4 linked regions of the Homo sapiens genome follow. The protein of the gene in region 2 interacts with the protein of the main gene of each other region in a biochemical or structural test. Each region holds a gene or a part of one and is shown on either strand. Other genes may lie near its edges.

Region 1 (7,036 bases), on a different chromosome or scaffold from region 2:
GAGCCACCACGCCCAGCTGTTTTTTGTTGTTGTTGTTTTTTACTAAATTAAGAATAAACATGTTTTACTTTTTGCTCATTTTGACTGTTTTCACAGTTGTTAATCAGACTAATCTTTATAAAGCAGTTTATTGTCCCCTTTGGAGAAAATACAGCTAAAAATCACCAGTATCCTCATATAGGTAACTGATTCATTGGTCTGATGTTGTAGCCCTCTTGGTTTCTCACCCCGTCCCTCACGTCTGTGTTCTATTTGTAACTTCATTTACAATATATTATGATTTTTTTCCATATCTGACTACATTTCTCCATTTTAAACTTTTATAAGTAATTTATAAAAGGAAACAAAGATTACCACGTGGAATTGAGAATAAAAGTTTATCTTTCTACTGTTAAGTATGCTAAGGTGGTAAAGCAATGGCTGAATGCTCTGAAATTACTAAGACAACATTAAAGGCTGATTCTAAAATGTTTTTGTTTAGATTGACATCTACTTAAACTATATACCAAACTGGGCTTGGGACGTAGGCTTTAGAAAGTGTAGGTAATAGTGCATTCTTGCTAAGTTTTGGATTTTTGCCAGTTTTGGATTCTATGGGCTTGTCTTAAGGTACTTCTGTGAACTTTTCAGCTTTTTGTAAAACTAGTGTAAATATTCTACCTAGTTGAGAATTAAGGTTTATTGTGCTAAAAATTAAATGGTGGTTGATTCTTGGCAGACATGTTTGATCACCTTTGCAAGGTTAAGGCATCTTTTGGAGTGTGTTTCTTGGAATCTACAAATTCTGAGTCTGTGACTAATTGATGACTTGGCAATTAAATCAGGTCTCAGCTGAAAACTTAAATATTCTGGAATATGTACCATCCATGATACACATAAATTACCCATCTCAATCTAGACAAAAGCCAGTTGAGGCTGGAAACAGTCCAGTTTTACAGCTCAACAACTGGTGGAGCCGGGGTCTGAATCCAAGTGTAGATGACTCTAGAATGCTTCCACTTTTCTGACTTAATTAAGTAGAGGGGCCTGTCCATAGATCAGTGGTTTTCAGAGTGTGCTGTAAGGCTCTGTACAGATCTTTTGGAGTTTGGTAAACAGTGAAATATCTTTTGCTTGAGAAATAATCAGTCATCTTTTTGTTGTATACATTTTGGTTCTGTTTGGAAGAGTTTCTCTATATGAAATTTTCTTCTCTAGGGAAATTTAAGACCTGTCGAATGAAAAAATATTAGAAAATAAAAATATAGACTGGGCACAGTGGCTCAGCACTTTGGGAGGCCAAGGCAGGCTGATGGCTTTAGCCCAGGAGTTCGAGACCAGCCTGGGCAACATGGGGACTCCCTATCTTTACAAAGAAAATTAACGAGAGTGGTGGTGCCAGCCTGTGGTCTTAGCTACTGGGGAGATTGAGGTGGGAGGATTGCTCGAGCCCAGAAGACCGAGGCTGCGGTGAGTGGAGATTGTGCCACTGCACTCAGACCTGGGCAACAGAGTGAGACCCTGTCTCAAAAAAAAGGAAAAAAAGTAGTTGTGGGGCTGACTGTGTCTATTTTCAATTATATTTCTTTTCCTAATGCTGTTTTGTGTAGCCTGTATTGTAAAACGAGGTTGAGGTGATTGAACACACTTAATAGAGTGAGGAAGTGGTTAGAGTTAAAATTTCCTGCTGAAAGTGGGTAATCTGCAATTCCTTGCATTGGGTTCACTCCTCACTGCCAACTCTTGCTGCATTTTGAGGCTGCCCTAAGCATGATGTAATGACAGGTTAAACCTCTGCACGCACTAGCTGATGCAATGCAAATCTGAGGCGCAGGACTTTATTGGGGCAAGGGTAGTGCTTGTTTAAAAACAAAACAAGCTACTCTGCGTTTAATGAGGCCATTTAAGATGGCTTTCCCAGAGTGGGAAGAGAGTATAATCTCTTAGGAGGTTTAAGTAGGAGTTTAATGTGGCAGAAGTGTGCTTACTACTTTTCCTGCAAAGTCTTTTCACAGTGGGTAAGGAGAGTTTAAAATATAGTGCTGATAGGAGTAGAAATGAAGTGAGCTAGAATTGAGGAAATATGGTAGTTGATGCCCGGTAAATAGCCGTTGAATGAATTAGGGAGAATGTTTTCACTCTAAAAATTTAGAGTTCGCACGATAAACCTGGAGCGTAGCGCCAGTGTGGCCACGCATTTCCCAGATACGCTGTAGCTCTTAGATCGAAACCATAAGAAACTGCCGATATTCGACTGTTCTGACCTACCGAAAATAGCGTGGTTCCACCTAATTTTAAACTGGTGGAAATGCTGAGGAAGGTTCGATGTCGCTGGGGTGGGATGGGGTCAACGGCGGGGTGGCGGGGGCTCCCCCACGCCCCCGGCCTTTGGCTGGGGGGCGGGGCTTGCGGGCACGGCCCCACCCTTGCGCGAGCAAGACGGGCATCGCCCTGTGCGCCGCGCGCCCTGAACTGGCCCTGGCGCCCCGGGTTGGAGTAGGCGTTCCCAACGCAGGCCCAGCCCCGGCCGAGGCTCCAAATGGCTCTCCCGGCAGGCAGGCTCCTGCAGTAACTCTTGAGCTGGCTCAGGGAGCGCACTTCCTTCTCAGCCAGCGCGTCGCCCCCTGCATCCGTGGCCTCCACTGGAGCTGGGCAGGACCCTACCCAGTGAATCTGGAGAAAACAAACTTGGGAGACAGACGAAAGCTTAGGGCACATTGGAGGACAGCGCAGCTGTGGCTCCCATTTTTGGAGATGCAGTCGAATTTGAGCTCACAGGGAGGTGTGGTTGCCTCCTGGGGATGGAAAGGCTTCCTTTCTCCACCTCTGTAACTGGTGCTTCTGAGAAGTAAATGGTATTTGGATCCTGACCTCAGACGCGAATTTGGGTCTTCTGTGCTTAGGAGCAGAAAGAGCCCAGGAGGGGCCTGTTCCTTTACTTCTTGGGGGAAACGCAATGCGTGGCCTGACTTCTCATGACGGGAAAGGCTACTCCACCTTCTCTGTACTCCTGGAGGGGAGTCTTGTTCACATGTTTACCAGCGGCCAGGACAAGGAAGAGAAAAGGTATTGACATTAAGAGGATGGTTTGCTGAGGCTGTGAAACTTGAACGCTATTAGTCAGTGGAACCTGCCTGGCTTAGGGAATGGCTGCAGCAGAATCGAGACGTTTCCGAGGTTCTCAGTCATGTTTCATTTGGGCTGCTGTTCTTTTTTCTGTTTAAATCAAACTTCAGGTTACGTCATGACTTCTGCAGGGCTGTCCTTGGTTCCTACTGCAGGGCGCCTGTGTGGTTGGGATTCCTTTTCTGTTTCAAGATGGAGCTGGGTTCCACCCTTGGAGCTTTGAGAGGCTTTAGCAGTTGCTGTCCTGTAATACCTCCGTTCCCAAGAAATACCGTTCACATTTCGCTTCTTTTTCACACTTTGAATAGGAGTTAAAATGTGCTTTCTGTAGTGTTTGGAAAATGGCAAAGATATATTGTAATGTGAGCCCGAACTGTTGTTGATAAATGTATAACTATTGCTAGGTCAAGAAATTGTGAACAACAGTGTTTTGCTTGGTCCGTAGCTATATTGTGTTAAATATAAACTGAGTTTACTGCCCTTGGATGTGATTCTTTGGTTTGATTTAGTAATTTGAAAGGCATTGGTTGACTAGACTGTTTTTTGCCCAAGGAACCACTTTGTAATTGTTACGCTGCTTACTGAAGTAAACTGGACCATGCAGTAGGCATACAGCATACAGCCAGGGTGTTTTGGCAATGCTGAGCCCACTGTTTTACAAGTGACATAAAATGGATGTCATATGTACAAAGAATCTACTGAGAGGGAAACTGGATTACAGGAGAGCTCCCTTATAGTCCTTTGTCAGGGGACAGAATACCTGGGTCACACTGGGCTTCAGATTGAGAGTTGATTCATGTTCTGAGTCCATATGATGAGACACATTACGATGGAATTGTCACTTTTGTTGCCTCTGGAACTTTAAAATACCCGTTTAGTGACGTGGAATTAATCTTTATTTTTTCCGTCACCCTCAGCCCTCATTTAAGCTATCAGTTGGTAACCACTTGGGTAATCTAAACCTAAGTTGCATTTATTTGGTCACATTGGTAACCAACATTGCTTCTTAAAAGTTCCTTGCAACAGAATGACTATAATTGAGATAAAACATTAATTTTGAGGCTTTAATTTTGTAATATGGATTAGTGGCCGGGCGCAGTGGCTCATGCCTGTAATCCCAGCACTTTGGGAGGCCGAGGCGGGTGGATCACGAGGTCAGGAGTTCGAGACCAGCCATGGTGAAACCCCGTCTCTACTAAAAATACAAAAATTAGTCGGGCATGGTGGCGGGCCCCTGTAATCCCAGCTACTTGGGAGGCTGAGGCAGGAGAATTGCTTGAACCTGGGAGGCAGAGGTTGCAGTGAGCCGAGATCGCGCCATTGCACTCCAGCCTGGGCAACGAGCAAAACTCCATCTCAAAAAAAAAAAAAAAAAAAAAAAAAAAAGATTATGGCTTAGTAGAGTTACTAGGAGTGCAGTCTTAGGACATTGACTGATCTTTTTTTTCACCCCCAAGACAAATAGTGGCCTGCCATTTTCCAGCCCAGGTAGCTTCCTGGGAAAAGTTGCTTGTTTTATCTTTGACTCAGCCTGGCTAGTTACATTGTCGATTATTTCTTCCAGATGATATTTACCTGTTAAATAATGTTTATTACTCTGCTGATGAATGTTTTCAGCAACGCTGGAGAACCCTAGGCTGCAAGGGGTTCTTCACCTGTTGACTCCATCCCCCACCCCCAGTATGGCATATATCTCTGCCGTGCTATCATCTTTATTCTTTCCTTTTTCATTGTCTCTTCCTGACTGTCCTCCTTTGTTCATTATGTCTGACACATATTGTGGATTGAAAGTAGAACAGAAAGATATACTTTCTCTACCAGACTAAAAAGTTTTGAGATGGCCCTCCATTTCTCCCATGCCTCACTTCACCTTAGTTGTGTTTTTATTTATTTTTATATTTTCGCCACCTTCACTAGCGAGTACATCCCCTCACTCTTGAGGTGGGCACTGATCAGTAGGAAATAAGATTAATACCTGGCTGGTGATAATTTGGGGGGAAGACTTAATTAGATAGAGATGGATAATGGGATGGCAGCAGACCTTTCCCCTTGTGACCCTTCCCCTCATTTCCAAAATACACCTCTAGAGTAGATAATTGCTTACCATTAAGAAGAGTTAATGGAAGGTGATACTCTGATTCTTTGGCATTGGAACTACATTCAATCCGCGGTATCCTCGGATTAGTTCTAGGACCCCCTTCTCCATACCAAAACCTGAGGATGCTCAAGTCCCTGATAGAAAATGGTGTCATATTTGTATGTGCATATTCTCTTGTATAATTTAAGTGATCTCTGGATTACTTAATACAATGTAAACAATATGTAAATAGTTGTTATAGACTGTATTTTAAAAATTTTGTATTCTTTATAAATTTTTCTGAATATTTTCAATCCATGGCTGGTGAAGTCCTCGGATGCAGACCGTGTGGATACAGAGTGCCGATTTTATACAGGAGTTCACCTGTAACTCCCTGTACCTATCAACAGCTGACTCCAAATTAGAAAGAAATAGAGTAAGGGAGCCTCAGGGAGAGTCCTAGCAAAACGGATTCGATTAAACTTCAGTTCCTTGTATAGTTTCTTTAGTTGTTTATGGTCCATTTTCTATTTTAGCATTTATTATTCTATGTAGTCTATCCAAAGACGATTAAGGGAGTTCCACATGTTTTCCGGAACATTTTGAAAAGAGAGCTTATCCAGTGTACAGATCCTAATAAAGTGCACATTCAGTGTAATTTTATTTTTTTAATATCTTTTTTAATCCTATTTTTCTTCCTCTTTTGCTCAGTAAATTTTGTATGAAACTTTAAAAGGACTTATGGCATGTAAACATTATTTATAAAGTAAGTCATGGTTATAATTATTTTTCTCCTGCCTCCTTATGTATTTATTTCAGAAATGAGCCGTCAGACTGCTACAGCATTACCTACCGGTACCTCGAAGTGTCCACCATCCCAGAGGGTGCCTGCCCTGACTGGCACAACTGCATCCAACAATGACTTGGCGAGTCTTTTTGAGTGTCCAGTCTGCTTTGACTATGTGTTACCGCCCATTCTTCAATGTCAGAGTGGCCATCTTGTTTGTAGCAACTGTCGCCCAAAGCTCACATGTTGTCCAACTTGCCGGGGCCCTTTGGGATCCATTCGCAACTTGGCTATGGAGAAAGTGGCTAATTCAGTACTTTTCCCCTGTAAATATGCGTCTTCTGGATGTGAAATAACTCTGCCACACACAGAAAAAGCAGACCATGAAGAGCTCTGTGAGTTTAGGCCTTATTCCTGTCCGTGCCCTGGTGCTTCCTGTAAATGGCAAGGCTCTCTGGATGCTGTAATGCCCCATCTGATGCATCAGCATAAGTCCATTACAACCCTACAGGGAGAGGATATAGTTTTTCTTGCTACAGACATTAATCTTCCTGGTGCTGTTGACTGGGTGATGATGCAGTCCTGTTTTGGCTTTCACTTCATGTTAGTCTTAGAGAAACAGGAAAAATACGATGGTCACCAGCAGTTCTTCGCAATCGTACAGCTGATAGGAACACGCAAGCAAGCTGAAAATTTTGCTTACCGACTTGAGCTAAATGGTCATAGGCGACGATTGACTTGGGAAGCGACTCCTCGATCTATTCATGAAGGAATTGCAACAGCCATTATGAATAGCGACTGTCTAGTCTTTGACACCAGCATTGCACAGCTTTTTGCAGAAAATGGCAATTTAGGCATCAATGTAACTATTTCCATGTGTTGAAATGGCAATCAAACATTTTCTGGCCAGTGTTTAAAACTTCAGTTTCACAGAAAATAAGGCACCCATCTGTCTGCCAACCTAAAACTCTTTCGGTAGGTGGAAGCTAGACACATGAAGGTAAATAAAAAGAAAGGCTGTTAAATACAGGAAACAGTTGCATGTAGTAACACTAATATATTTAAAA
Region 2 (4,069 bases):
GGCATCAGTGACCGAATCCTTACCAGTACACCTCCCTACTCCCTGCCCCTGCAGAAAGCCCGATTAGCTCAAAATGGAATAAGGGTCTCAGGAGTGCAGGGATGGGTTGTCCCTTTCTGTTCACTGGTTTACTTCCTGGTCTACAGGAATAGTCAACTGCACGCTCAGGGAAGACCTTAGGGGAGCTCCAGTCCCCAAAAAACTCACTGTTTTATAATGGAACACTAAAGCCAAACTGAAAAATTAAATGTGATTTATTGCAGTGGATGATCTCTTCAGGGAAGCAGATATCGAACCCAATGGCAAAGTGAAGTATGATGAATTTATCCACAAGATCACCCTTCCTGGACGGGACTATTGAAGGAGGAGAATGGGAGAGCCTCCCCTGGGCCTGAAAACTTGGAGCAATTAATTTTTTTTAAAAAGTGTTCTTTTCACTTGGGAGAGATGGCAAACACAGTGGCAAGACAACATTACCCAACTATAGAAGAGAGGCTAACTAGCAACAATAATAGATGATTTCAGCCATGGTATGAGTAGATCTTTAATAAAAGATTTGTATTGATTTTATTAACTACCGTGAGTCCGGCCCTTTCAAGCATGGAAGGAGCCTGCGGTTTGGAGTCTGGCCTGGGTTCCAGTCCTGGCTCTGCTGCTTCCCACTGTGACTTTGGGCAAATCATTTCACTCCTCAAAGCCCCCCCACACAAGCTGGATTCCCACTTCTTACCTCATGGAGCCTGTTGAGGAAGGATTGAGCTGATGACTTAAGGGCAATCTACCAAGAGACTTATTCTGTATTTGGGGGCTAGAACCATCTTCCATATTTCCAAGATTTTCCAAGATGAAGCCAGTGCTAGCTGAGAAGCAGCAATGAACAGAAAGCTGTAACACTTATGACAACAATTCTTGCAGTGCCAGAGGCCCATTTACAAATTCTCATTTCCATCTCAACAGATATAGTGACATAGCTCAGGCTATTCATTCATAAACACAGAGTGTAGAGTGAAAACACTAGAGTGAAAACACATGCTACAATGAGGCAGCATCAGCTGAGAGCAGGAAGAGCGATCTACTTTACACCCCACACCAAAGGAAACCAGATGTGAGCTGCTAAATTGACTGGCCTTGCAGAGCTCAAGAAGGGGGCTTCCAATGCTGTGAGAATTCCGAGCTGTTCCCTGGGCTCTGTTAACAGGCAGAGAGGTTCCGGGATGGTCTGCTCAAGTGGCCCACACTGGTCATTGCCTTAAGCCACCTCCCCAGGACTTACGGAGAGAAATAAGGGGATGTAACCAGCAATGGCCAGGGTACAACAGCCCTGGAAAACAGTAGTAGGAGCACTAGGCTTTCTGGGAGTCCATCCAGCTGGAGTGGCTTTGAGTGAGTTACACAGCTAGAAGGTGCCAGGTTGGTGCTGCCAGAGATTCAGAGGTGCCATACACTTGTCAAATCTGGATCATTCGTAGTGCCAGCACAGTCCTAAAAGGGCTGGAGTACCACACCAACACAGGTAGGGGTGCAGGGCTTCAAGTACAAAGATTTGCATCCATGTATGTATCAAAAGTGGGTTCTCTGGGCTGTGGCTTTGTCTAGTAGTACCACAGTGGCTAAAGTAGAAGAAAACCAAATCAAATGGGATGTGTCTTTTGGGAGGATGTACAAGACACAAATCTTTCACTAGGCACCGGGCACAGGGAAAACTGCAGGGAACAAGAGTTGTAGTGTTAGTGCAACTGTCTCAACGATGCTGTGTGGCTTCAGACCCAAACAAGGCCCTGAGGAAGGAGACTCTCATTTCCCCAAGCATAACTGCAAGGAGAGGAGGAATTCCTAGGAGCCAAAGAGTTTTGTGGGGTGAGGGTAAATAAATGGCCCAAATGCCAACTAGGTGAAGTTGTGACCATCTGGCTGGGAAGCCCAGGTCCACACAGTGTAGGAGCAGATGTTTTGTGGGGTCTGAGGTTTACGAGATTTGGCTGCCTTAAGAATACAAAAACAGAAATGCAGAATTTCTGGGGCTGCTCCTAGGACCAGAACAAGTGAAGGGTCCTGGTGCTTAAACTTCATTACCTTCATGGTAAATCCACCAGAGGGCCGGTTAGATGCTGGCCCCGCCGAGAGAACTGCTGTCACTTTCAGGCAAAGCTCAAAGGTCCTAGGCCCACAGTTCTTTTGAGCTCCAGTCATGGACATTAGGAAGTAAATCCTGCACAGCCAACCTGGAATACCAAAGATTAGATGGGAGATAGATACCAATGATTTAGATGGCACAGGAAGAGCAAGTTCTGGATATAATAAATGAGGGTACTTTCCGTCAAAGCTTTTCTATGTCTATATTTATCACTGAATAGTCCCAGTATGGTTTTAAAGCAAGTTTTATGAATCTCATTTGCCTAACAGGAATCTGAAATATAACTTGCCAAAAACACACAGTTGGTGTGGAATGGTCATTAGAACCTGGGGCTCCTCTTCACGGACTCCCTGCTCATTAAGGGATTCAGTGGTCCAGAGTCTAAGATCCTATTAAGTGTTTGATTCAAACCTCTACCCGAGGAAGGGCTGTTACCTTACTCCTGGTCCTGGTTTCAAGCTCATTCCTGAAATTCCAGCTGGTTTCTCTAGCACCTAGTGTTGTTTACAAGAAGGCCACGGTGCTCTTAGCATTCAAACTGCAGATACTAAACAGATGCTGTGATTTATTAAAGAGTTAGCCATATTTCAACAAGAAAGGGAAATGATGGCTATATTCATTACTTACCTCAAAGCATGCTGCAAGAAAATTAGTTAGTTACTTGTCATGCTTTGAAATCTCTGGATGAAAGGTGCTTTGGAAGCACAAACCATTATCACTTGTCTCATAGGGATTGTCCCCTTGAACATCCAGCAGTGTTATTTTACAGAAGACAAATTAACTGAAGGCTTTTCTTTTATTACATCTAAAGAGCTCTACATAAACAGGTAACATTCAATAGGTAAACAATTTTTTTCCAATGCATGTAATAAATATTTTCACTTGGTACTTTTATACAAACTGACATTGTCTACTATACATTTTTAAAAGCCATTTTACTGGTTTGGCATGCGGTATGGAAATTCTAAGAGAGAAAGTTTTAAGGCAATGAATCACAGATTTAAGTTCATGGAATTTATGGTAACTTTATCTGTTTATGTACATTTTCCCCTTTGTTAAACAATTAACAGCAGCACACTCTGGGACCACCAGCTATTTTCCCTCTCTTTCTGAAATCTAAGCTTTGTATTTAATTAAAAAACAGAATTCAACATCTATTGATAAAACAAAATTCTTACTAAAATAATTTCAAATGTGCTTTAAAAAGTCCTGAAGATCTTGAAAGTTTTATGTGTTTAAAATTGAAATTGTCTAAAAAAATGCTCTTTCCACATTAATTTAGTTAGGATATATTTTCACTCCATTTCAGACACTTGACTCAAAGGAAAATCTGCCAAAGAATCCGATTTTTCAGAGCTTACGTGAATCTTTCCTCAGTAAAGATACAGAATTGTGATCATGTCTAAATAATTAGTAAAGCAATTTTAATGCTCAAAATAGTCAACCAAGTATGGCATGGTTCTGGTTCAGATTTTTTTTTTTTAAGATGTATCCAATAACACTCACGAAGTAATTAAAAGCCACTTTAACCCTGCTAGTCAAATAGCTATTTTATCAAAGATGTGTGCATACAGATGTATATATATATACACACACACACACACAGTACTGTACAGAAACAAACATATGCATACCTACTATGAACGGCCAAGGCAAGGGGGATGATGGCAACTTGACTAGATTCTGAGAACTGCTATTTGTCCACAGATAGCATGTCAATGTTGGGATGGGTTGGGGAGTGAGCGTAGGCTAAGAAAAAAAGAGATGAAGTGACTATGTGCTTTTCTTTAAACTTAGTAGTTACAGACATAGTACAGGACTCTACTAATAATTAGTAGAGATCATGAAAGTCTGATTGATATTGACCATGAGACCAACAGAGTGACAACTATTACTTAATGCAACATTTTGGAAAGTCAACAACTGATGGAAACA
Region 3 (7,036 bases), on a different chromosome or scaffold from region 2:
CTGAAGTGTTTTTGACAGCCATGTTAAAGAACTTTTAAATCTAATGAAACATGTATTTAATAGTTTAAGTGATAGTTTAATAGGATATATCTAATTTGGTGTTTGTTTGTTTTTGTTTTTTGAGACAGGGTCTCATTATATTGCCCAGGCTGGAGTACAGTGGCACAATCTCAGCTCACTGCAACCTCAGCCTCCTGGGCTCAACCTCAGCTCACTGCAACCTCAGCATCCTGGGCTCAACCAATCCTCCCAGCTCAGCCTCCCAAGTAGCTAGCACTACAAGCGTGCGCTACCATACCTGGCTACTTTTTCTATTTTTAGTAGAGATGAGGTTTCGCCATGTTGCCCAGGCTGGTCTCAACTCCTGACCTGCAGTGATCCAGCCCGCCTCAGCCTCCCAAAGTGCTAGGATTGCAGGCGTGGGCCACTGTGCCTGACCAAAAAGTTTTAAATTTTATAGGTAACATTTTTGTGCAGAATTTTAAATATGAAAATAAAGTATGTTAAGAAATCTAAACATAACACATGTGAATTTAGGATTTTAAAGTGATCAGAATGGCTCTAGTAGTGTTAAGCTATCTTGGTTGTGGAACATATTTGAATATTTAAATAATTATTAAACATGCTTTTAGGCCAGGTGCAGTGGGTCACACCTGTAATCTCAGCACTTTAGGAGGCTGGGGGGGCGGCAGATCACCTGAGGTCGGGAGTTCGAGACCAGCCTGACCAACATGGTGAAACCCCGTCTCTACTAAAAATACAAAATTAGCCAGGCGTGGTGGTGCATGCCTGTAATCCCAGCTACTCAGGAGGCTGAGGCAGGAGAATCGCTTGAACCCGGGAGGCAGAGGTTGCGGTGAGCCAAGATTGTGCCATTGCACTCCAGCCTGGGCAACAAGAGCAAAACTCCATCTCAAAAAAAAAAAAAAAAAGATGCTTTTAAAACAATTTTAATTGCCCATATAGCATGGTAAATACTGCAAGGAATAAAATTCCAAGTGTTATTAGAAACCTTCAAAACAGGAAGACAGCATGAGTCCTTGAGCTATAAAGAATATAAAGCTACAAACTTCAAGAAGTACATTAACAGAGACAAGTGAACAACAGCACAGGAGGGTCACTCCCTAAAGACCTACTGTCTCCCACTGCACCAACATTCCTCTGAAAAAATAATCTCTTAATTACAAGGAATGTGTAAGGCATGTGTCAGTAAAATGTATTAGATATCTACTGTATGGTCCCAGAGATTATGCCAAGTTAAAGGAAAGTAAAAGATGAGTTTGGAACTTCTTACTGTGCCAGAAAGTAAGGAAGTGTTCAAGAAGGTGGTGGACACTAAACCTAAGGGGAATATTTGATGAGAAAGGGGATATTCGCATAGTTTCAAAGTGTGTCCCCTCAAATTACTTAATTGTAACAGGAAAAACAGTTAACTACAAAGTAAAAAAAAAAAAAAAAAAAAAGAGACAACACTTAAACTAAGTGATCAAAGCCTGGGCACATAGGGAGACTCCATCTCTACAAAAAATTTAAAAGCAGAGCATGGTGGCACATGCCTGTAATCCCAGCTATTCAGGAGGCTGATAGTGATAGGATTGCTAGAGCCCAGGCATTTGTGGCTGCAGTGAGCTATGACTGCATTCTAGTAGTCATACTAGAAAAACATAATATTTTTTTTTTTTTGAGACAGGGGACTCCTCGCTCTGTTATCCAGGCTCGTCTCGAACTTTTGGGCTCACTCAAGTGATCCTCCCGCTTCAGCCTCCCAAGCAGCTAGGACTATAGGCGTGCACCACCAATCCCAGCTATCAAATGCTGCACAATGTTATTTTATTTTATTTACTTTATTTTTGAGACAGGTTCTCACTCTGTCACCTAGGCTGGAGCACAGTGACATGACCAGGGCTCACTGCAGCCTCGACCTCCTGGGCTCAAGTGATCCTTCCACCTCAGCCCCCCAAGTAGCTGGGACTACAAACATGCACCACTAAGCCTAGTTAATTCTTTTTTTCTTTTTTTTTGAGACAGAGTCTCGCTCTGTTGCCCAGGCTGGAGTGCAGTGGCGTAATCTCGGCTCACTGCAACCTCTGCCTCCCGGGTTCAAGCGATTCTTCTGCCTCAGACTCCCGAGTAGCTGGGACTACAGGCACATGCCACCACGCCCGGCTAATTTTTGTATTTTTAGTAGAGACGGGGTTTCACCATACTGGCCAGGCTGGTCTCGAACTCCTGACCTCGTGATCCGCCCACCTCGGCCTCCCAAAGTGCTGGGATTACAGGCATAAGCCACTGCACCTGGCCAAATTTTTTTATTTTTAGTAGAGACGGGTTTTCGTCATGTTGCCCAGGCTGGTCTTGAACTCCAGGACTCAAGCAATCCACCCACTTTGGCCTCCCAAAGTGCTAGGATTACAAGTATGAGCCACCGTGCCTGGCCCACATGCTGTGCAATTTTAATTGGTGAATCTAAGGAATAGTTATACAGGAGAGTATTACACTATTCTCACAATTCAGTAAGTTTGAAATATTTTCAAAATAAAAAGTTAATAACCCTATATTGTTCCCACTATCAGAAATATCAGTAATGTTACTCTGTGTATGAAGGGAATCTATGTATATAGATACACACACACATACACACACACACACACTACTTTGAGATATCTCTATAGAGGGAAGATGGGTGGAATATAAAAGCAAAGCAAACTGCTCATAGAATAAAAAAATCAAATGAAGACAGAGAAGCATAAAAAAATAGGGTAAAACAAGATGACAGAGCCAAATATATTAATATACACTATGCTTCTGTATTAACATTCTCAAAATAGGTCAAAAATGAAAATCCAGCCATTAATGTTACCATCACCATGAAAGTATACCAGAAATTTACCAAATTTGAGGAACATTTGTCTATCTTCAAAAAGGATGTAGCATGTGACCTATGACAATTTCAGTACTCATTTTGTTTCTACCACCCTTTTTATTGGCACTTTTAAAGGCACTATAGGGGAAGTTCAACCCAAAACATTATTTCTTCTCTCCAACAAATGATATGCCATTTAAATCAGAGAATATTCAAGAAAAGGGCAGTTTTAACACCAGTGAACCAAACTGCTCAAAGGAGAATTTAAATTTTTTCTTGACTCAGGAGAAAAGTATACTCACTTCTTTTGGAGTATGATTATCAGCAATTCTCTGACCCTCAAAGAGAAACCTGAGTGAATTCATTGGAACACCCTAAAAAGGTAAAGATAATAATAATGCATACATACACACACAAATATTAGAAAACATAATGGTAACTTTGATGCACAAAAAGCAAGCATGAAAGCCTTAGAACACTACATAGAAAATAAAATTAGACAAGCTAATTCAATCATAAATACTATATACTGTACTGAGTAGCAACTATTTGCAAGGCCCTCCCTGTACCAATTCTTTACATACATAATCATAAGTGTTAAACACAACAACCCTGGAAGGTAGGTATTACCACCTTATCTTCATGTTACAGCTAGGGAACCTAAGGCTTGGAGCTAGCCAAGAATTTAAGCCCAAACCTGTTTCTAAGCCTATGCTCTTGACCACTACTCGATTCACTTTGCCCTAAATCTGTAAGCTAGAATAAAAGATCAGATCAGAAACTGGACGTGCACCCTCACTAGCTTCCAACTATACTGGCGAAATTGGTTTTAAACAGATTACATCATAAAATTTGGTAAAGCACAAATGGCTAGCTAGCTAATCTACCATAAACCTGGATGGCATAGATAGCGCAATATTACAAAATATATTAGTATACATTTTTCTAATCACTCTTCAACAAAAATAGCTGAAAGGGGAGACGGCTCACTTGAGGTCAGGAGTTTGAGACCAGCCTGGCCAACATTATCATAAAATCTGGTAAAGCGCAAATGGCTAGCTAGCTCATCTACCATAAACCTGGATGGCACAGATAGCACCATAAATATTACAAAATATATTAGTATACATTTTTCTAATCACTCTTCAACAAAAACAGCTGAAAGGGGAGAGACGGCTCACTTGAGGTCAGGAGTTTGAGACCAGCCTGGCCAACATAATGAAACTCCATCTCTACTAAAAATACAAAAATTACGGGGCAGGCGCAGTGATTCAGCCTGTAACCCCAGCACTTTGGGAGGCCGAGGCGGGTGGGTCACTAGAGGTCAGGAGTTCAAGACCAGCCTGGCCAACATGGTGAAACCCCATCTCTACCAAAAATACAAAAATTAGCCTGGCGAGGTGGCACGCGCCTGTAATCCCAGCTACTCGGGAGGCTGAGACAGGAGAATCACTTGAACCCGGGAGGTGGAGGTTGCAGTGAGCCAAGGTCGTGTCACTGCACTCCAACCTGGGCAACAGAGGAACACCCTGTCTAAAAAAAAAAATACAAATACAAATACAAAAAAAAATACAAAAATTAGCCAGGCCTGGTGGCAGGTGCCTGTAATCCCAGCTACTCGGGAGACTGAGGCATTGGGAATCACTTGAGTCCAGGAGGTGGAGGTTGCAGTGAGCTAAGACGGCACCACTGCACTCCAGCCTAGGCGACAGAGTGAGACTCTGTCTCAAAAAAAAAAAAAAAAAAAAAATCAATTCCCTGGCCTACAGATGGGGGGCGTAGAGACTATATGAATTTTCTTCAGAGTTATGAAAATTAAATGACGATGAATCTTTTTTTTTTTTTTTTTTTGAGACAGTGTCCCACTCTGCCACCCAGGCTGGAGTGCAATGGCGTGATCTCGGCTCATTGCAACCTCCGCCTCCTGGGTTCAAACGATTCTTCTGCCTCTGCCTCCCGAGTAGCTGGGATTACAGGCGTGCACCACCATGCCTAGCTAATTTTTGTATTTTTAGTAGAGACAGGGGTTTCACCATGTTGGTCAGGCTGGTCTCGAACTCCTGACCTCATGATCCGCCTGCCTCAGCCTCCCAAAGTGCTGGGATTAGAGGCGTGAGCCACTGTGCCTGGCCAATAATGTATCTTAAATACCTATGGCACAGTACACATAATTGAGATTTCAATAAATGTTTCTTTCCCCTGATGAATTTCATCTCAATTTTAACACCCAAAGTTATTACAAATGTGAAGTAGTTGAACCCCAATTAATGTGATTTTATTAAGTTAAACAATTAAAATCTACAAAAACAGAAGAGACAAAAATGCTTATTGTTTTACTTATCCTAACACCTAGTTTCTCTTTCTTATAATAAGTTTTTTTTAATGTGAGTTACAAATTTAAACTGTTAAAAGCAAACCTTCTAAAAATGAAATCTACAGGCCGGGCACGGTGGCTTATGCCTGTAATCCCAGCACTTTGGGAGGCCAAGGCGGGCGGATCACAAGGTCAGGAGTTCGAGACCAGCCTGACCAACATAGTGAAACCCCGCCACTACTAAAAATACAAAAATTAGCCGGGCGTGGTGGTGCATGCCTGTAATCCCAGCTACTCGGGAGACTGAGGCAGGAGAATCGCTTGAACCAGGGAGTCACAGGTTGCAGTGACCTGAGATCACACCACTGCATTCCAGCCTGGGCGACAGAGTGAAGACTCCATCTCAAAGAAATAAATAAATAAATGAAAATAAAATTTACAATACCTGAGTTAATATTATGTAATATAATTCAATTTTTTTTCTTTTTTTTCTTTTTTCTTTTTTTTTTTTGAGATGGAGTCTTGCTCTGTCACCCAGGCTGAAGTGCAGTGGCATGATCTCAGCTCACTGCAACCTCTGCCTCCCAGATTCAAGTGATTCTCCTGCCTCAGCCTCCCGACTAGCTGGGAATTACAGGCATGCGCCACCATGCCTGGCTAATTTTTGTACTTTTAGTAGAGACAAGGTTTTGCCATGTTGGCCAGGCTGGTCTTGAACTCCTGCCCTCAGGTGATCCGCCCGCCTCAGCCTCCCAAAGTGCTGGGATTACAGGCATGAGCCACTGCACCCAGCCTATAATTTAATTTAAGACTGATTAAACATATATTTCTTGCTTATTAAATCATAATTTCACTTAAACTATATCTTGGTTGTCTCATATTAATTCCAATTACATTTATTTTCAAAACCTATTTTATAAGGCCAGGCCTGGTGGCTCACGCCTGTAATCCCAGCACTTTGGGAGGCCGAGGTGGGCAGATCACCTGAGGTCGGGAGTTCGAGACCAGCCTGACCAACATGGAGAAACCCCATCTCTACTAAAAATACAAAATTAGCTGGGCGTGGTAGTGCATGCCTGTAATCCCAGCTACTCGGGAGGCTGAGGCAGGAGAATCACTTGAACTTGGGAGGCGGAGGTTGCAGTGAGCAGAGATCGTGCCACTGCACTCCAGCCTGGGCAGCAAGAGCAAACTCCATCTCAAAAAAAAAAAAAAAGAGAGATAATATACTAATAATACTACTACTTAAATTTAACATATGGCTAAACACTCATGATTAGAAGTACAAAAACAATCCATAGTAATCACCAAAAAATTACTTGCCTTTTTTGCTATATATACTGGTAAGCCATCAAGACAGAAACATTCATTTGAGCTCGCTTTTACAATTCTGAGTTACTTTTCAAACTAGTTCCCATCTTACGAATTCAAACTTTAAAATGGGCCACAAGACAAAAAAAGCAGTTAAGCAGGGTACAAGAAATGATAGAGTGTTTTCCTTGAGTTGCTAATGGTGAAAATAATAAAACAGGATTTTTCTTCTGACAATCTTCTATAAAAAAAAAAAAATTAACGACAAAGCATTGTACTTAATACCAAAATGGACGAACCTGTCTTTGACAGTATGATTCTTTGAGTTTCTTGAGATGTGTTGTCATTTTCACTTTGAAGTGAATCTCACTGCTATCCTAAGGAGATAAAAAAGAAAAAAATTATCCCTCTTTGTATAAATCATTTGCTTTACTTGAACCAAACTATTTAATTACACATATAGTGCAAATAGAAACATAAACCTTGTAACCTGTATTTTTCCACCACAATATTCTTTTTAGCATTCTTAACAGGTTTTCTTAAAACAG
Region 4 (7,036 bases), on a different chromosome or scaffold from region 2:
TTTCGATCTGTTTTTAAAGTAATTTTCATTATTTTGTAAAAATGATGTTTAAGAATTTATCTTTGAGGTGCGCTATAATCATTTGTTTCAACCCTGTGACTTTGTTTCTAAAAACTTCTTTGGTTAATTTTTTTTTTTATTTTAAAGCAATTATAATCAAGCACAAATTCTAAATTATTTTAAAAAATCATTTCCTAGTAGCCAACACAATCAAAACAAAAGTGAAAAAAGTATACAAGAAATATTTTTTTTTAAAAAAAGAATGTGAGGGTGAAACTTTAACAATTACAAAGTTAGAAAGTATCTCTGTACTACTCATTTAAAAAATATTTAGGAAAGCTCTTCTTTACCATTTTGTTGGCCCAGATACACATCTTATCATAGATAAGCTATTAGAATTCTAGAATCACATTTTTTTTTTTCCTAAACACAAGCTATTGCTTAAGGGAAACTGACTTGGACAGCTTTTCAAAAATATGAAAGCTGAATTTTTCCCCAGGTAAAAATGGAAACAAAAATCTTTTATACCTCACTCTACTAAGTACTATTTTAGCTTAGTACAAAAAAATCTTCTTTAATCCTGGTTTAGCTTTTAATATTATATCACACATTAAAATTCATAAAGTAGTTCATTCCAGGCAAAACAAACTACTGTTCAGCTCTTCTCCGCAAATAGCACAGGAGGTAAAATAAATGCAGTTGCTTTCAGAATAGCTTTTATCAAGGTAGGGTGTACTACTCCATTATTAAGGCGGCGCCGGGGAAGTAGTTAAGAATTGGAGCTTCTACTACTTACCCTCCCATGTGGGGATAGGGTGCAGCACTAGAGTCTGCTTTTTATTTCACTAAAATTGTGCCGCAGGACACACATTTTCCATAAAAACTCTATTTTGCTTCTTCATGGATTGCTGTATGCATTGAATCATGCTTTTAGATTTTACACGAAATGAACTCTATTTCAGCCTTGATTGGTGAACATCCTACTCTGATGCATGAAGAATTGCCTGCAAGCACACTGCTTTTACACAAGCAAAATTAAAGTTATATGTAGTTTTAATAATTGTGATAATAAACACTGACATTTATTAGTTGTTTATTATGTGCTGGACATTGTATTAATGTATATTAACTTCTTAACTTGCCTAACAGCCCGGAGGAGGTATTATGATTGTCCCATTTTAAAATTGAGAAAACTCCGTTAAAACAAACAGGTTAAACAATTTGTTGGTGGAGCAATGCTGAGATCTAAACTTAACTAGAAACCCAAAGTTATTTAGAGTTCATGACATTACCTGCACCTTCTTTACTTGAAAAAATTCTTAATTTTTAGAGCAGGCTGGACTTGTTTTTTGGTGGCCCTTTGATAAATCTAGCTCATTAATGTCTAATTTTTTAATAGCTATTGATTTTTGATTAAAATCCAATCTAAATTTATTTTTCAGGGTATAAAAATTATATTTTCTTATTAATGAAAATAAGAAATGTCCTCTTTTATGGATGCTTATTAGTGATGGAAAATATTTCCCACTCTCAAATTTTAATATATTAACACTGTCTTTAGCACCATGGTTTCATATTTTTAGATATTTCTTTCCTTCCAGGAACAGTATTATTTTCCAAATCTAGCCTTTAAAAGTCTTCCAGCTTTTAAAAGACGACAATTAATGGGATGCATTTTATAACCACATAAGCAACATCTTAAAATGATCTTCAAGGGATTCATAAGAAATAAAACTTTTACCAAGTGTTAAGTTCCTGCCTGTAACTGAACCTGAAATCAAGATGAACCTATGTTTCATTATATCGTAGAGGGATTTCTTGTAAAGAGACAAAATAGTGCAACTACCAGATTAATCATATACTGTTTATATTAACTTCATAAATTTTCTAAAGCATTGTTATGAAATAGCATACCTTTAGTAATTCTTTAGGTAATTACATAAAGAGATGTAAAAAATGAAGAATTACATAAAGAGATGTAAAAAATGAAGAAAAAAAGACTTTTGTGTAATTCATGTAAAAGCTGTAACTCAGTAATTATATGCTTTCAAACAGTCTTCATGGAAACAAACTGCTAAATTAATTTAACTCCAAAAGTCACACACCATAAAATGCACAAATCAAATTTTAAAAAGTATACCCTTACGGTAGAAATCATCACTTAAAATTCTGTAAAATATACAATTCTCAGATAATAATCATGAATTATTATTGTTCATAAAAATTCCTCTAATAAACTCATCAGGAAAATCTGCAAAGCTTATAGTGAAAAGAAACCTTAAGACCAAGGAAGCTGGGAGGACTGGGTTCTCCCAGATATTTTCATGAGACCAAAGTTTAAAAGGGGCTGTTCTCCCCACAATCCCAGAAATGCCATTGTCTAGTTTTCCCAACTGGATAATTTGTCAAACAAGTTATTTCATTAGGACAATGCTTTAGCACATGCTCCTCTTCCCATTCTAACAAGAAAACCTCCCATCCTCTATGACAAACAAAAAGATCTCCAAGTTTCACTTTTCCCTTTCTAAAATAAGTTTGCTTTTATTCTGAGGAGGTGGCTTGAAGTAGAGGAAGGAGCAAGAGACTTAGCAGAGGATTTGAAAACTCTGACTCAACCTTAAACTTGGTTTTCTCATTTTTCTTCTAGGGAAAGGTTGGTATGAGGATTCAATGAATTAATGTATTCAGCTGCTTTCAGAATAGCTTTTATCAAGTTAGGGTGTGAATCATTATCAGGTGCAAGATATTCTTATTTGTTGAATTAGAGCATGTAAGTTGTGAAAATGTTTGCAGCAACCAGGTCTGGCCCAGAGCCTATAGCCCAGGCAGAGGATGAAGCACAGGGCATAACTGTCCCTACTGGAGCACATGGGATACCTCTGCAGGGAGGCATCTCACCTGGACTGGGCCACCAAGGAGCTCTGGTGTTTCCTGAGGCTAGGTGTCCCCAGGTGGGGTCTGACTAGCCAGGAAGTCCTTTCTTGAAGATGACTTAGAATTCAAGTCCTTCAATAGTTTAGGTCCTTGTTATGGTATGTCCCAAGGGCACTCCAAAATCATCTTCTGCATGTTTTACACTCTATAAAGAGGTGGAAGAGAATCCAGTTTCCCAGGCCTTAATGGGGGCTGGGTTTTCTGTGAACCACTGAGGGCCTCTGCTTTTAACATGTGGTTCTTTAGAAAGAAATCAGGTTTCAGGTGCAACCCAAACCCAAGATTTGTCTCAAAATATGTTTCAAATCTCCTCATTTTGGGGGAAATGAAATGTATACTGATTTCACATGGACTCCTCTTTGGCAAAATGTAAAATTTAAAAAGACAAAATTTTGCAGTCTGTGTTATCTGTGGTTTTCTCCATTTTATCCTTTATTTTAACTCATTTTTAATATGCATACTGGTTCCAGTTTAAGCATCATTTCATTATTTCAACTGCTACAAGACAGCACTAATTCAAGTGCTCTATAACGTGTTTTTCCAAATCTAAAGTACTAATTTTGCATTGATAATACCTTTAATACCTTAAGATTTCTTAAAATTTAATTCATTTAATCATGGTTAAAGGGAAGAATGTGAACAAACTGGTAGTGATCTCCATTATAATAATATTAATAATTTAAAGATTTATATTGCAGCAGCAAAATAAAATTACACACACATACACATATCAGTTAGTCATTTTGGAGTTTGGTTAGATGGCCAGTAATACTGCAGTAATAGAAATGTTTTATTTGAAAGAGTTTCACTAAGAATCTACAGTATGTATATACTGTATATTTTCATCATTGGCTGAATACCCTAGCTATGGGCTTGGTCTCAGCTCCTCTTCAGAACAAACAAATACAGCTAAGGGTGGCACAACCAGTTAACCAATAATTCAGGCAAAAATAAATTAAACATATATTCTATCCCAACTTATCAGCAGATAAAGCCTTTAAGCATACATACAGGAAAGTTATCCTATAGTATCTTAACAGCATATGAAAAGAAATATCACTTAATAAGAATTGGTATAACTTTAGCTCAAGAAAAAGCTTGATGAGTAAGGACACCCAAATCACATTTGGAAAATAAATAAAACCAGAGTCCTAGAAAAATTAGAAAACAAAAGCTGTATTAAGGAACCACAAAGTCAAATATCTGGCTAGATGTTTTTTTTTTTTTTTAAAGCAGTTCAATGTTGAAGTTCATATTGGTCTTAAGTAAGCCATTCTTTTATTAGTATTGCAGATTAAGTGATAAGTAAAGTAATTCTCTGCTCAGAGCCCTGTCAGTGGTGACTTCAGGAGCAAAGTTAACTAATAAAAGTGTGTGTATTAACACTAAACACTACAGAAAAAGTACCAAACCAAATTATTTTATTTCATTTCGTATATTTTTTCTTTTTTATCATTCCTAGAAGTCATAGTTTATCTTTTCTCTTTAACCATACTTAGAAGTCATATTTTTTATACATAAAGAGTTCCTCATTCTTTATCTTAGGAAATATTTTATAGAAGCATTTAGAGATCAAATTCAATAACTTTGTGTGCGTGGGCAGGTGGGTGTGTACATACGTATATAGATGCCATGCTTTTCTCCTAAAGAAGCATGACTTTTTTATTCACAATTATAGCAATGATTTCCTTATAGTCTGTTCCTATAGACATCAAGACCAGATTGATTTTCATTAAATAAACTAGTGAAAATGGATTTTGTGACATTTCTAAAAAGTAATAGTTTCAGAACCTTATGATAAGCAGTTTATTTAGCTACTCAACAAGTGGCTAAATATTTCTTATTTATGCAGTATCCGTAGTACTTTCACTCTTTAGTGTTGAATGAGTTTTTTCTAGATTTCTATACATGAAAATGTATAACCACTTTCTACCATTGATGAGAATGAAGTAAAATCGAGATACAATTTCACTATGAGATTGTCATATGAATATTTCGACTTTTTCTTCCATGTTCAATTTTTATCCAATTTTAACTGACCTTATTTTTAAGAGCTGTAAATGTCACAAGTTAAACATGTAAGAAAACACATTTGCAGCCGGGCGCGGTGGCTCAGGCCTGTAATCCCAGCACTTTGGGAGGCCGAGGTGGGAGGATCATGAGGTCAGGAGATGGAGACCATCCTGACTAACACGGTGAAACCCCGTCTCTACTAAAAACACAAAAAAATTAGCTGGGCGTGGTGGCAGATGCCTGTAGTCTCAGCTACTTGGGAGGCTGAGGCAGGAGAATGGCGTGAACCCGGGAGGCAGAGCTTGCAGTGAGTGAAGATCGTGCCACTGCACTCCAGCCTGGGTGACAGAGCGGCACTCCATCTCAAAAGAAAAAAAAAAAAAGATAATATATTTGCTTGTGGTTTTTGAGTCTAATACACTAACTAGCAAACTTTTATCTAAGGGTTTGTAATGCAAATTGATTTACTGAATTATAACAGTTATGAGGTTACTTTTAAAACTTAGTTTAAAAAACAATACAGATTCACATACCCAAAGTTACCCGGAAGGCAACTTTCTTTCCTAAAAAGTCCAAAAATTTTAAGAAAGAGAAAACATGCCCGTATCTTGGAGTATGGATAGAATTCCTTATCAGCCCCATTTAAAGCTGCCTTCAAGGATTTTATTAAACTTAATTATGAAAGATTACAAATGAGATGGTGTGTAATTGGTACCAGCTGCAGTTCGTACTGGAAAGTATAAATACAAATGAAATTATTTATTTTTATTTATTTACTATTCAAATGGCGATTCTGAAACCAGTTGGGAAAAAACTGACTTTATTCTTTTTCTATTGAGTTTAAAATACTTTACTTAATAACAACAGTAGAGACAAATATCCCATTTAAAGACTACTTTCACCCCCAAATAACCCAAAGAATGAAGGAACACAAAGCAATTTTCTTCCCTCTATCTAATTAGGAGCTTATTGTTTTTATATCAGAATTAATGATTTGGGACCAAATTCTCCTCAAGCAACTATACGAATTTAAAAACATATAAATCTATGTATCTATCTATCTAATTTCTTATTGAGATTCTTCCTCAAGCATTAAAAAAAAGCTAAACAAAGAAGGGCAAGGAGGAAAAGGAGACCGCACCTGGGGAGGACGGCTGGGTGGTGTGCTGATGAGGGGGGCAGGACCCATGGCCGAGGCAGCATTCAAGCTCCTTTCCCTTTCGTCCTGGTATATTCGGTCTCTTTCAGCTTCCGGTAACTGCAAGAAATTCTGCATAGCCCGAAGGTTTACCAGCAAAGACTGGGATGCAGTCTTGGGGTCCTCTTCCTTTCGGAGGATTTCTGAAAGCAAGCCCTGCAAGAAATGAAAGGCACAGGGTGAGCCTGCTGCCTTGCTTTGCCTGGCCAGCAGTGATCCTTCCCTTTTCTTCTCCACTCTGTTTAGAAAATGAACAGTCAGAGGCATTAATTCTGCATAGGAATATATTAGTTACAACTGAAGTGGTAGAGAAGAGAGCCTCAATTGTATTCTTAATTTTATTAAGCATCTGCTTTACATATAACATAAACTGAAACTGCCTAATTGGTCTCCTTCCTTTGAGTAGCTTAACTTGCCATGAAATCTTTCACAGAGAGACGATCCAGGGAAGTTAAGAATAAACGAAATCCTTATAATGCAACAGCACTGAACTGTATAGTTCCCAAGCTGCCTAGACAAAGGCAGTGTAATGCCTACAGCCCAATATGTAAAGATACAAAGCCATTTCTAGAGAAGTAGAACTTTCAAAGAAAATACCAGAAAATGAATTTTAACATATTAGAACAAAGGTTATTACTAAAGCATCACCTAAGGTTTATGCTGTATTTTCACAGGCAATGTTTAAAATTATTCCTTAAACTCTGACTTATCAAAGTACATGACACTACGTGACCCTTTCAATTTACCATTTTCAGAGAACCTCACTGATTATCACAAATGATTCTAAATACTATCTTGCTGTATTATACCACTGGGTAACAGGTTTAAATTTTGAACTTTAAAAACCATAGACAAGATTTGAAATATATTAACTAATTTTCAACATTGCGA

What was found.
Region 1: the proteins of PIAS1 (region 2) and SIAH1 form a complex in vitro, tested with the Homo sapiens proteins (one study listed by BioGRID).
Region 3: the proteins of PIAS1 (region 2) and SUMO1 form a complex in vitro, tested with the Homo sapiens proteins (6 studies listed by BioGRID and IntAct, with this or other methods).
Region 4: the proteins of PIAS1 (region 2) and SATB1 form a complex in vitro, tested with the Homo sapiens proteins (2 studies listed by BioGRID, with this or other methods).

Annotation. Positions count from the first base shown.
Region 1 is NC_000016.10:48,361,396-48,368,431, reverse strand, and holds part of SIAH1 (E3 ubiquitin-protein ligase SIAH1), read left to right. Parts: intron 1-2,544; exon of another isoform or gene 2,545-2,954; coding exon of another isoform or gene 2,955-3,045; intron 3,046-5,428; exon of another isoform or gene 5,429-6,001; coding exon of another isoform or gene 6,002-6,003; coding exon 6,004-6,852; coding exon of another isoform or gene 6,853-6,955; 3' UTR 6,956-7,036. Other genes in the region: LONP2 (lon protease homolog 2, peroxisomal), read right to left, coding at 6,836-6,955. UniProt on the Homo sapiens protein: E3 ubiquitin-protein ligase that mediates ubiquitination and subsequent proteasomal degradation of target proteins.
Region 2 is NC_000015.10:68,190,307-68,194,375, reverse strand, and holds the end of PIAS1 (E3 SUMO-protein ligase PIAS1), read right to left. Parts: 3' UTR 529-4,069; downstream 1-528. Other genes in the region: CALML4 (calmodulin-like protein 4), read left to right, coding at 264-361. UniProt on the Homo sapiens protein: Functions as an E3-type small ubiquitin-like modifier (SUMO) ligase, stabilizing the interaction between UBE2I and the substrate, and as a SUMO-tethering factor. Catalyzes sumoylation of various proteins, such as CEBPB, MRE11, MTA1, PTK2 and PML.
Region 3 is NC_000002.12:202,207,570-202,214,605, forward strand, and holds part of SUMO1 (small ubiquitin-related modifier 1 isoform a precursor), read right to left. Parts: intron 6,866-7,036; coding exon 6,788-6,865; intron 3,238-6,787; coding exon 3,166-3,237; intron 434-3,165; coding exon of another isoform or gene 299-433; intron 1-298. UniProt on the Homo sapiens protein: Ubiquitin-like protein that can be covalently attached to proteins as a monomer or a lysine-linked polymer.
Region 4 is NC_000003.12:18,380,311-18,387,346, forward strand, and holds part of SATB1 (DNA-binding protein SATB1), read right to left. Parts: intron 6,302-7,036; coding exon 6,089-6,301; intron 1-6,088. UniProt on the Homo sapiens protein: Crucial silencing factor contributing to the initiation of X inactivation mediated by Xist RNA that occurs during embryogenesis and in lymphoma.